2 linked regions of the Homo sapiens genome follow. The protein of the gene in region 1 purifies or fractionates together with the protein of each later gene. This does not show direct contact. Each region holds a gene or a part of one and is shown on either strand. Other genes may lie near its edges.

Region 1 (5,571 bases):
AATGAAGAAAGGCGTTTGCTGTGGCCCCATGCAAATTCTGAGCCTCCCTAAAGGAAGTGTGGTCTCTGGAATGCATCACCCCACAGGGCTCGAACCGAATCTTGTTGTCTGGGCATCTGAACCTTATGGGACAGCTTGTGCAGTCTGTGGGTGTTGCCCACATCAAGGATGTGCAAGCCTAGTGGGCAGCTTGATGCAAGAAGGAGCCAACCTGAGCTCCGCCCAGCTCACACTCTCGGGCAGCCATCCTGCTTACCACCAATCCCTACTTACCATCGGCACCAACACTCTCGTGGCCATTTATTGAGCATCTACTAGGAATTAGCCCTGTGATAGGTGCTTAAAAGACAATTTGTTTAATCACCTCCGTGCAGTAATTATAAATCCTAGTTTATAAATCAGTCAGCCAAGATCAGGGAGAGTAAGGAGCTGACCAAAGACTCCACATCTAGAAAGCGGCTGAGCTATGTTAAAGAGCCCCAGGACCCCGCCACAGTCTCTCTCCCTGTGCAACTACCAGGTGCCAGGACTGCCCCACAGGCCAAGCAAGGCGTGTGGGGTGCAGGGCAGTCTCTCGGGATTTGGTCTAGATGAGCAGAGGGGTAACTAGGCAACTGAGACCACTGGTGCTGAAAACCTCCTGGGGGAAAGAGCAGTTTGCATTGCTCAAAATTTCTGAAAAACCGATTCAGCTTCCTACTTCTCTTGCTGCCGAGGACATGGCCTGGAAAATCTGATTTCACCTGCCTGGGGGAACCCGGGGCAAAGCTGGGAGAAGGTCAGGCTCACCTGAGCTCACCCTGTGACACACCTGTGGGAGGTGGGATGTCCGTGGTGGACTCCAACAAGGGACCTCAGAGAAGCCTCCCGGCCTCGGCGGTTGGAACGCACATGTTTCGACAGTCCGCGTTTTACATATATCATACATAAAATACAAATGTATATTGTATATACTTGAAGATACGTGGCTCTAAATATAAAAACACACCTTTTTGTATTCTTAACCACTGACACTCAGGCAAATTCATGGCTGGATTTGTCACTTTCATGCTCCCAAAGCCAGTGATGGAACTGGCCCCTCCTGGAGACCTTAAGGACCAGCAGAGACTCTTCCACTCCTGATGCTGATGCGACTTGCATACTGGGAATCCATGACAACCTGTCAATGACAATAGAGGCTGACAGCTGCCACTGACAGACCCCTCCACAGGCCCATGCTTTACCGAACATGTTCGGGGGAACAGGGAAACTGAGGTACACAATAACTCCACTTCCACCAACTGTCAAAATGTTTATTGATCTATTTGGTGCCAAGATCGTGCAACTTTTATCAACACAAATAAGCACTTGGCACAGCCACCTCCCCTGAAGCCCCAAAAGCCTATAGTGGGGGCAAATGATATAGGACAGTTTCTTAAGACTTAAAAGGCAAAGTGGCATCTCGAACCTGCATGGCTGTTAGGTGGTTCTAGCTGTGGCCGTCCAGCCCAAGGGGAGTCTAGCACCACTGCTAAGGAGGATTGCGAGGTGTTTCTTGCTGATGGTGAAGAGTTGGTTCGTGGAGGTCACAATCAACCTTTATCCACCATCCAGATCCCAGAGCCACTGGGGATTTTCAACTTGTTACTAAATAAAATTCTCTTTTCTGCCAGTAGAGCCATTTCCCAAGCCCACTGAAACAATAACAAATGATTTTAGTTAAAAGACATCAAAAAAGGAGCCGGGCATGGTAGCTCACACCTGTAATCTCAGCACTTTGGGAGGCTGAGGCGGGCAGATCACCGGAGGTCAGGAGTTTGAGACCAGCCTGGCCAACATGGCAAAACCCTGTCTCTACTAAAAATACAAAAAAACTAGCCAGGTGTGATGACTCATGCCTGTAGTCCCAGCTACTTGGGAGACTGAGGCAGGAGAATCACTTGAACCCGGGAGGTAGAGGTTGCAGTGAGCTGAGATCGCACCACTGCACTCCAGCCTGGGTGACAGAGCAAGACTCCATTTCAAAAAAAAAGAAAAGAAAAGAAAAAAGAAGACATCAAAAAAAAAAAGAGAAGAAAATCAGACTATAGTTCGAATCTTTCTGACATCCTTATTAGTTTATGGCAGGCACTGATTCCAAGCCACCTTTCTTCCTACCCCCATTCCCATTAACAACAGGTACATATTAGAATGTGCTGGAGCATTAGGAATAGCTGATCACCACCTGATACCGCCGAAGTTGAGTCACAATAGCTGCTTAGCTCGGTCCAGCATATGGCATCTCAACATCACCTCTGAGCAAACTCCACCTTCCTCCGTGAGGACAATAACCCCAAAACACTCCCAGTCTGCAGCAAGTGTGTGCCAAGAAGAATCACCCTAGGAATTCTCCTTCTGGGGGCCTGCAGCAAGCTCTGGCAATGCGTTTTTGCCATTTGATGGCCTTTGGAGGACTAAAGCCATCACTGTGAAACCTTGACCACCCAGGGCAACTGGAGCGGGTGCAGGGGAGGTGGGTCTGCATTGACTTCTGTACCTGCCCCTTAGCTCTAGAAGAGAGGGCAGGTATGAAACTCGGGCACAGTTTCCTGCCCCCAATAGTGGAAACTTTGGAGCATTAAAAATCACATTTTGTACCAGAGGTGCTTTTCAGGTAACGGTCCTGACAACCCCATAGAACAGATGTCATTCTTCCTTCCACCTCACAGAGGGTCAACTGGAGACTCGGGAGGATACCACGCTCACCCCCAGAATGAAGGTCTTCAAAGCCTGTATCTTGACCACAAGAATCTGGAATCTCTTGAAAGTTCACCTGCCCACTTCCTCCCTTCATCCAACGCACATGAGACTCCTACCAGGTTCAGGGACACAACCAACAACAACCCCTCGGTGCTTGGTGCCTGGAGGGAAAGCAGACATGGCACAGCTAATGACACAAAGATTCGATTACTGCCATGACAGGTGTGACAGGAGGAAGGCCAGGGTGCTCCTGGGCCCCAAACAGGACACCAGGCTGGGGGTCTCCCTAGGCGAGGCCCTGAAGGTGCCTCTGAGTGTGGCCTCTCAGCTTCCCTTCTGAAATGACTCGTGTTCTTTCACCTGTCTCCCTACAAGGGCAGCAGCTCGTAGAGGGCAGGAATTTGTCTGTGTCGTTCCCTGACGTTCTGCGGCCCTGGGAACAGCACCGGAGGTCAGAGGTGTGTGGCAGATGGTGCTGAACGCTGAGCCCCTGCGGAGGCTGTGTCTAGTGATGTCCCCTATCAAGTCTACATTTGATTCCCTGGGAACATTCCCCAGCTACTCCCCAAACCCCCGCCACGACATCTGTTGGTGCTGGTATGTCAGAGATGCACAGAGAGCTGGAGACAGAGACACCAGCTCCTCATGCAGCCTGACAAGGCACGTGTGTTTTGGGGAGACATTTCCAATGAATGTCAGCCGGTGTCTTGCCAGAGCAGAATGGACCCAATTGCTCTGAGAGGTGGCCAATTCGTATGTGTTCTTCCCTAACAAATGGTCCAATATGGGCTTGCAGTCTTGGGAGCCTAAAATAGCACTGCAATGGCCAATCTTGCAAAGAAAGCCCTGGAGCTCAGGAGGTCGGTGTAGTGGAAAAGAAAGCCTGGGAGTGTGGACTGCAAGGTCAGGGAGCTTGCGTTTGAATCCCAATGGAGCATCAGTTCCTGGCTGTGTGACCTCGAGCAAGTATCTTACACTCTCTGATCCCATTTTTGTATCCGCAGATTGGTGCAATAGCTCTCTCAGGGTTGTTTTGAACACTGAGAAAAATGCGTCACTAATACCTGGCACATAATAATCTCTTCACATTCAACTAGGAAAAAGAGCAGAAGCAAAAAAATCCATCAGTAACCCAGGAACAGAAAAGAGAAGCCATTCTGTGGCTCTCGGATAGTCTGGGGATGCCCCAAGCTCTTCCAGGCTCACCCCAGGGTGCTGAAGCCCCTGCCCTGGCTGGTAAGTCATTCTGGGATTTTTCCCGGTTTGGTGACAAACAGTTCTGCCAGTGCCTGCCTGACAAGACCCTGACGAGACCCCTGAGGTGTCAAGGTTTGGCTTTGTAGTGTCATCCAACGGGAAAATGAGGTTGACTGTCAGTACTCGGCACTGTCACAGCTTCACAGAGGGGTGCAGCCCACCCTGGGGAGAAGGCAGGAAGGAGTGCTTGGAGCAGAAGTGAAACTGAAGACCGGCCCCTCCCCGGCCCTCCCCCGCTGCACCTGTTGATGGGGGTGGGGGACATCAGGGCCTTTCTTTTAATGGTTTGCCCCCACATATGATCACCTGTTAAAAATTTCAATTGATTCTCACAAAGGGGAGCCCCAAACCATCAGAAGCTTCTGGGCTTTCTGCTCCCAGGTTAGGCTGTCTTAGGAACTGCAGCCAGTGGGGCATCTGGACGTCAGGGCGGTGTTGACCTCACGGCCCCAGTTTTGTGCCTTGCCTTGTACCCCCTCTTCCAGCCTCTGTCCACCAAGCCTGGCAGTGGATTAAGGGAACCCTGCTGGCAGACCCGAAGAGACCGTCTGGGGCCTCTTGGGCCAGCAACGGGCATGCTGGGGTCGTTGCCAGCCAGGTCTGCGGTGGGCCTGGCAAGGACAAGGAGTATTACACAGATAGTCAATTACCTCCATGTTCAAGGCCATGGGCCCCAGATGGGCCTGTTGATTCCAACCTTCCCAGCCAGTCCGAGGATGGGCAACCTTTTTCTGGTGAAGGCCTTCTCATCACTAGGCACTCTGTTACAGAGTGACCGCTAGGGAACCAGGCAGAATGGACCATCGAGTCCAATCCGCCCCACCATCATCGCTCACCTCTATGAACACACAGCTGCTCCAGACACTAGGCCACACACAGCCAGAATCTCTCTGCACCCTCAGCACAGGGACTATTATCACCCCACTTTACAGACCCATCAGATGACAGTGAAGGGGGGCACAAAGGGGACACGGCCAGCAAGTTTTGACGCCTCCATCCCTCTGGCCCTCGGTCTCACTCCTAACCCACCCACAGCAGGGCAGGTCACTTGATGAGACAGATGGGGTCTGCCAGCAGGTTCTGTGGGGCTTCTTGGTGACAGGGGAGACAAAAGGAACTGCCAGCACTTAAAACCCAGGAGTTTTATGTCAAAATCTAACCATTCGGCTGCCCTGGAACGGAAAGATCTGGCCACTCAGGGCCCATGTGGCAATGGTGGGCTGAGCAGTGGCCACAGTGCCTTTAAACTGGACTCTTGCCCCTGGTTCCCTGGAGCCCACCCCAAAGACAACTGAGTTTGCTTCCCTGAACCATGCTCCCCCAGCCTCGGGGAGCCCCTGGCACAGCATGGTACCATCCTTGTCACTCCAGAGGGTGCATGAAGAGTAGGTCCGTCTCCCGCACAGCTCCCGCACGTGCCCCAACCATGCGTGCGTTACGCAACACTTTGTAAAAAGCAAAAAATGGGCCCTCGGCTTCAATCTCCTTCTCTCAGCATGTGCACCGTACAGAACCCGAGGCTGGCAGCAGCACAGCCTCCGAAATTCACCGTGTAAGAGTTCCTTCTCTTTGGGCAGGATCCCAGACACCGAGGTG
Region 2 (4,580 bases), on another chromosome or scaffold:
GAGAGGCTGGGGCAGGAAGATCACTCGAACCCAGGAGTTTGAGGCTGCAGTGAACTGTGATTGCACCACAGCTTGGGTAACAAGCTGTGATTGCATTCCAGCTTGGGTAACAAAGTGAGACCCTGTCTCAAAAAAAAAAAAAAAAAAAAAAAAAAAAGAAAGAAAAAGAAAAAACAAGAATACAAACAACTACAACATATTGTTGACCACAGTCACCATGATGTAACTAGGACAAACTTTTTATTTATTTATTTATTTATTTATTTATTTATTTATTTATTTATTTATTATTTTAAGGCAAAGTCTTGCTCTGTCACCCAGGTTGGAGTGCAGTGGTGCGATCTTGGCCCACTGCAACCTCCGCCTCCTGGGTTCAAACAAGTCTCCTGCCTTAGCCTACCGAGTAGTTGGGACTACAGGAACATGCCACCACAGCCAGCTAATTTTTGCATTTTTAGTAGAGGCGGGGTTTTGCCATGTTGGCCAGGCTGGTCTTGAACTCCTGACCTCAGGTGATCCACCTGCCTCGGCCTCCCAAAGTGCTGAGATTACAGGCAGGAGCCACTGCACCTGGCCCAGACAAACTTTTTAAAAGGCAAAATATGATGAAAATTCCCTTCTGGCCAGGCGTGGTTACTCATGCCTGTAATTCTCAGCACTTGGGGAGGCTAAGGCAGGAGAACAACTTGAGCCCAAGAGTTTGAGCCAGCCTAGGCAACAAACTGCGGTCCCATCTCTCTAAAAAATTTAAAAATTAGCCAAGTGTGGTAGTGTGTACTTTTCATCCCAGCTACACAGGAGGCTGAGGGAGGGGGATCACTTAAGTCCAGGAGATCAAGGCTCTAATGACCTGCGCTTGTACCGCTGCACTCCAGCCTGTAGAAGGGCTATGGTGATGGTGACAACGATGATGACCTATGGCTTTGTTGCAGTAAGAGATGAATAAAACAAGGTGTTTTTCAACAGATTTCACAATTTAGTAAGGAGAGTCAAATATGTTTTATAAAATACAGGAACTACAGGTATGTGGTAAGTGCCACGAATGATGTATAAAATGTAGAGAATGGTTTTTTAAAAAAGAGGCTATGGAAAAGGAAGCAAATCATCTGATTCCCAAGAGTAGGCAGAATGGAACAGGTGTACATGGGAGAAGAAAAGCAGGTGCGAGGAAGCAATGGAACAGCCTCTGCATCAAACAGAAGAGCACAGGGCAAGTTTGGTGCCTGCCTGAATAGCTTCTACAGGAGGGCAGGGGATGCAAGGGTCTGTGCTACAAAGGTGGGTGAGGCAATTAACCAAGGACTGGACCTACTAAGGACTCACACTGGGGTTGAAGGATAAATAAAAACAGTGCTTAAATTATCTATGGTGAAGGAGACCTATTTTCTAAAGTTGTAATTCATGACAGACTGATGTATAGTACACAACCCATACACAGCTCACATCACATGCAACTCACTGTGCAAGTTTGACAACATCTAAATTAGTTGAGGCCAGGCGCAGTGGCTCATGGCTGTAATCCCAGCACTTTGGGAGGCCGAAGCAGTTGGATCACTTGAGGTCAGGAGTTTGAGACCAACCTGGCCAACATGGTGAAACCCTGTCTCTACTAAAAATACAAAAAATTAGCCGGTCATGGTGATGGGCGCCTGTAATCCCAGTTACTTGGGAGGCTGAGGCAGGAAAATTGCTTAAATCTGGGAAGCGGAGGTTGCAGTGAGCCGAGATCACACCACTGCACTCCAGTCTGGGCAACAAGAAATTCCGTCTCAAAAAATAATAATAATAATAATAAATAAAACAAAATAAAAAAAACTAGTTGATTCCCTGTACAGCAAGAATCAACTCGTAATGCAGTTGGATATTGTGGCAATGTCAAATCATTATATGTTACTAAAATATTAGTCTTAACTTCTGTACACATCTCATTGTGGAAAAGTAGCAAATAGTTAACTTGCCACCACAGGTTGGAGGCCCACACATGAGCAGCTCAGAGATAGAGCCTCATCCTCAAATGACTCACATACCAGTGGGCTGAAACCAAATATGAGGGCTTGAGTACCTTGAACTAGAGAACCGCAGGCTCTGAGCAAAATTGTGCTTGCTTGGGAGGCTGCACAATGGAAGCAAATGGCTCAGGTAGAAGACAACAGTCACAGTGAGAAGAAAAAGGAAGGGATAAAAGACAGAAACTCATGTAAAAGAAGAGCTGACAGAATCAGCCAAGAGTTGTGTGTCTGGAAAACCAATGAGGTGGTGTTGCTATCAGCAAAAAAAGAAATCCATGAGAAAGAATTGGTTGAGTAAGAAAGACACTGAACTCTGTTTTACATGTATTTGGTTAAATGTGTGAATAGGGAAAACCAAGAAGTTATCCAGCTGGCAGCTTAAGTGGAACTGGTCTCAAGAAGTCAAAGAAGGAATAGGGAAAGACTGGGGAATGATTAACATCAAGATGAAAGGTGAAAATGAAGCCTGAGAGTATATGCAACCCCCAAGGCAGAAAACATGGATAGAAAGAGAACTGACCAAGAAGTAACAGCCACACTTTGTACAAAGAGGAGAAAGAGGAGAAGGGAGGAGGAATTATTAATGATGCCACAGAAGAAATAATATCAAACTCAAACAACATCAATGCAAAGAAAAAAATAATCAATCTGATGTACCATTTCCATTTAAAGGGAAAAAAAATTGAATAAAAGTGGCCCTTTACTTAGAGAAACTAAGCAAGACTCTCCTTAAATTACTCCACTAGCTTTGATTTTAAGTATTAAGGCAGAATTAGGCTGGGTGTGGTGGCTCATGTCTGTAATTCCAGCACTTTGAGAGGTCGAGGCAGGTGGATCACTTGAGGTCAGGAGTTCAAGACCAGTCTGGCCAATATGGTGAACCCCTGTCTTCAGTAAAAATACAAAAACTAGCCAGGTGTGGTGGCGGGCACTTGTAATCCCAGCTACTCGGGAGGTTGAGGGAGGAGAATCTCTTGAACCCAGGAGGTGGAGGTTGCAGTGAGCTGAGATCATGCCACTGCACTCCAGCCTGGGCGACAGACAGATACTCTATCTCTGAAAACAGAAGCAAAAACAAAAACAATAAACAACAAATAAAGTATTAAGGCAGAATTAGAACAAACCTATCTGATTTTCCCCTCCTCAGCTCAGGAGCCAGGAAGGAAGCAGTTACTCATGGTCATGCAACATTTACAGAGTGTCTAATGTCTATTCTGGTATTTAAATATCCTGTAGGTGATGTCATCTAAAAACTCAAGTTAGAACTATGAATCTGAAGAATTTATAAAGCTCTTACTAAGATTTATTACTTCCAGACATTTCAGATTGATCTTATGTGTAAGCTAATTCAGATCAAGAAAAATGATGTCTCCCTACATGTACCAGGTAACTCAGAAATCATCTCATTCTTACTACCTGAGGTCAGTGCAAGCCATTGTCCTTGGCTCTAATGAAGTTCTACCACTGGTGGATGAATAAAATAGGGCTCAAATTCTGGAATATGAGGGTTTTCTAAATACAAGGAACTCAAGAGGCAAATAATGTTAACAATTTAGAAAGCAAGTTAACAAAGTGTTTAGAGTTCCTTATCTTGTCACATTCCAAGAAATTCTCAAAAATCAGATAAATTATAACCACTTTTACCTCCAAATTAAGAATTTTATATCTGCAAATTGCTAATACTTCCCTAGGAGGGACAGGTCTGATTCCTTTATTCTGAGGAAAGGTGAAGCCAAGCAATTCTTTATGGGACTGGAATGTATAGGTTTCCTAGGCTGAACCATATGAAAGGAGAAGAAAGGGGAGCAAAAGGTGATGCTCCTTTACACTGATGAAACTGAACATGCCTGAGTACTTGGGAGGCTGAGGCAGGAAGATCACCTGAGCCCAGGAGTTTGAGGCTGCAGTGAGCTCTGAGCACATCATTACACTCCAGGCCGGGCAAGAGAGCAAGGCCCCATCTCTTTAAAAACAACAACAAAAAACAGGACGGGCATGGTGGCTCATGCCTGTAATCCCAGCACTTTGGGAGGCCGAGGCGGGTGGATCACGAGGTCAGGAGATCGAGACCATCCTGGCTACTAACACAGTGAAACTTCGTCTCTACTAAAAATACAAAAAAATTAGCCAGGCATGGTGGTGGGTGCCTGTAGTCCCAGCTACTAGGGAGGCTGAGACAGGAGAATGGCATGAACCTGGCAGGCGGAGCTTGCAGTAAGCCGAGATCAGGCCACCGCACTCCAGCCTGGGCGACAGAGCGAGACTTTGACTCAAAAAAAAAAAAAACAAGAACAACAAAAAAAACAAAAACCAACAACAACAACAAAAAACAGCTCTCTCACTCAACTGGGTTCCAATCTGCAAAACAAAGACCTTCAAGACATACATCAGTGAGAGTTTCCAGTAATAGCAAACCCTACTATTAATCATAATTCTTCCCTCTAGGCAGAAATAGAAAAACGGGCCCACATTCAATTACCCAGCTTGTTTGCCTTGGTTAATAACCTACTCCCCACCCCTGCAATATAAGCCAGCCACTCAAATGAGATCTATTTCTCAAAAATGGTTACC

What was found. Proteins that work in one complex are often made in the same cells at the same time.
Region 2: the proteins of PMEPA1 (region 1) and PHLPP1 purify together in Homo sapiens (affinity purification with western blotting, with the first as the bait; one study listed by BioGRID). This does not show direct contact.

The regions. Positions count from the first base shown.
Region 1 is NC_000020.11:57,699,028-57,704,598, forward strand, and holds part of PMEPA1 (protein TMEPAI), read right to left. Parts: intron 1-5,571. UniProt on the Homo sapiens protein: Functions as a negative regulator of TGF-beta signaling and thereby probably plays a role in cell proliferation, differentiation, apoptosis, motility, extracellular matrix production and immunosuppression.
Region 2 is NC_000018.10:62,896,011-62,900,590, reverse strand, and holds part of PHLPP1 (PH domain leucine-rich repeat-containing protein phosphatase 1), read right to left. Parts: coding exon 4,580-4,580; intron 1-4,579. UniProt on the Homo sapiens protein: Protein phosphatase involved in regulation of Akt and PKC signaling.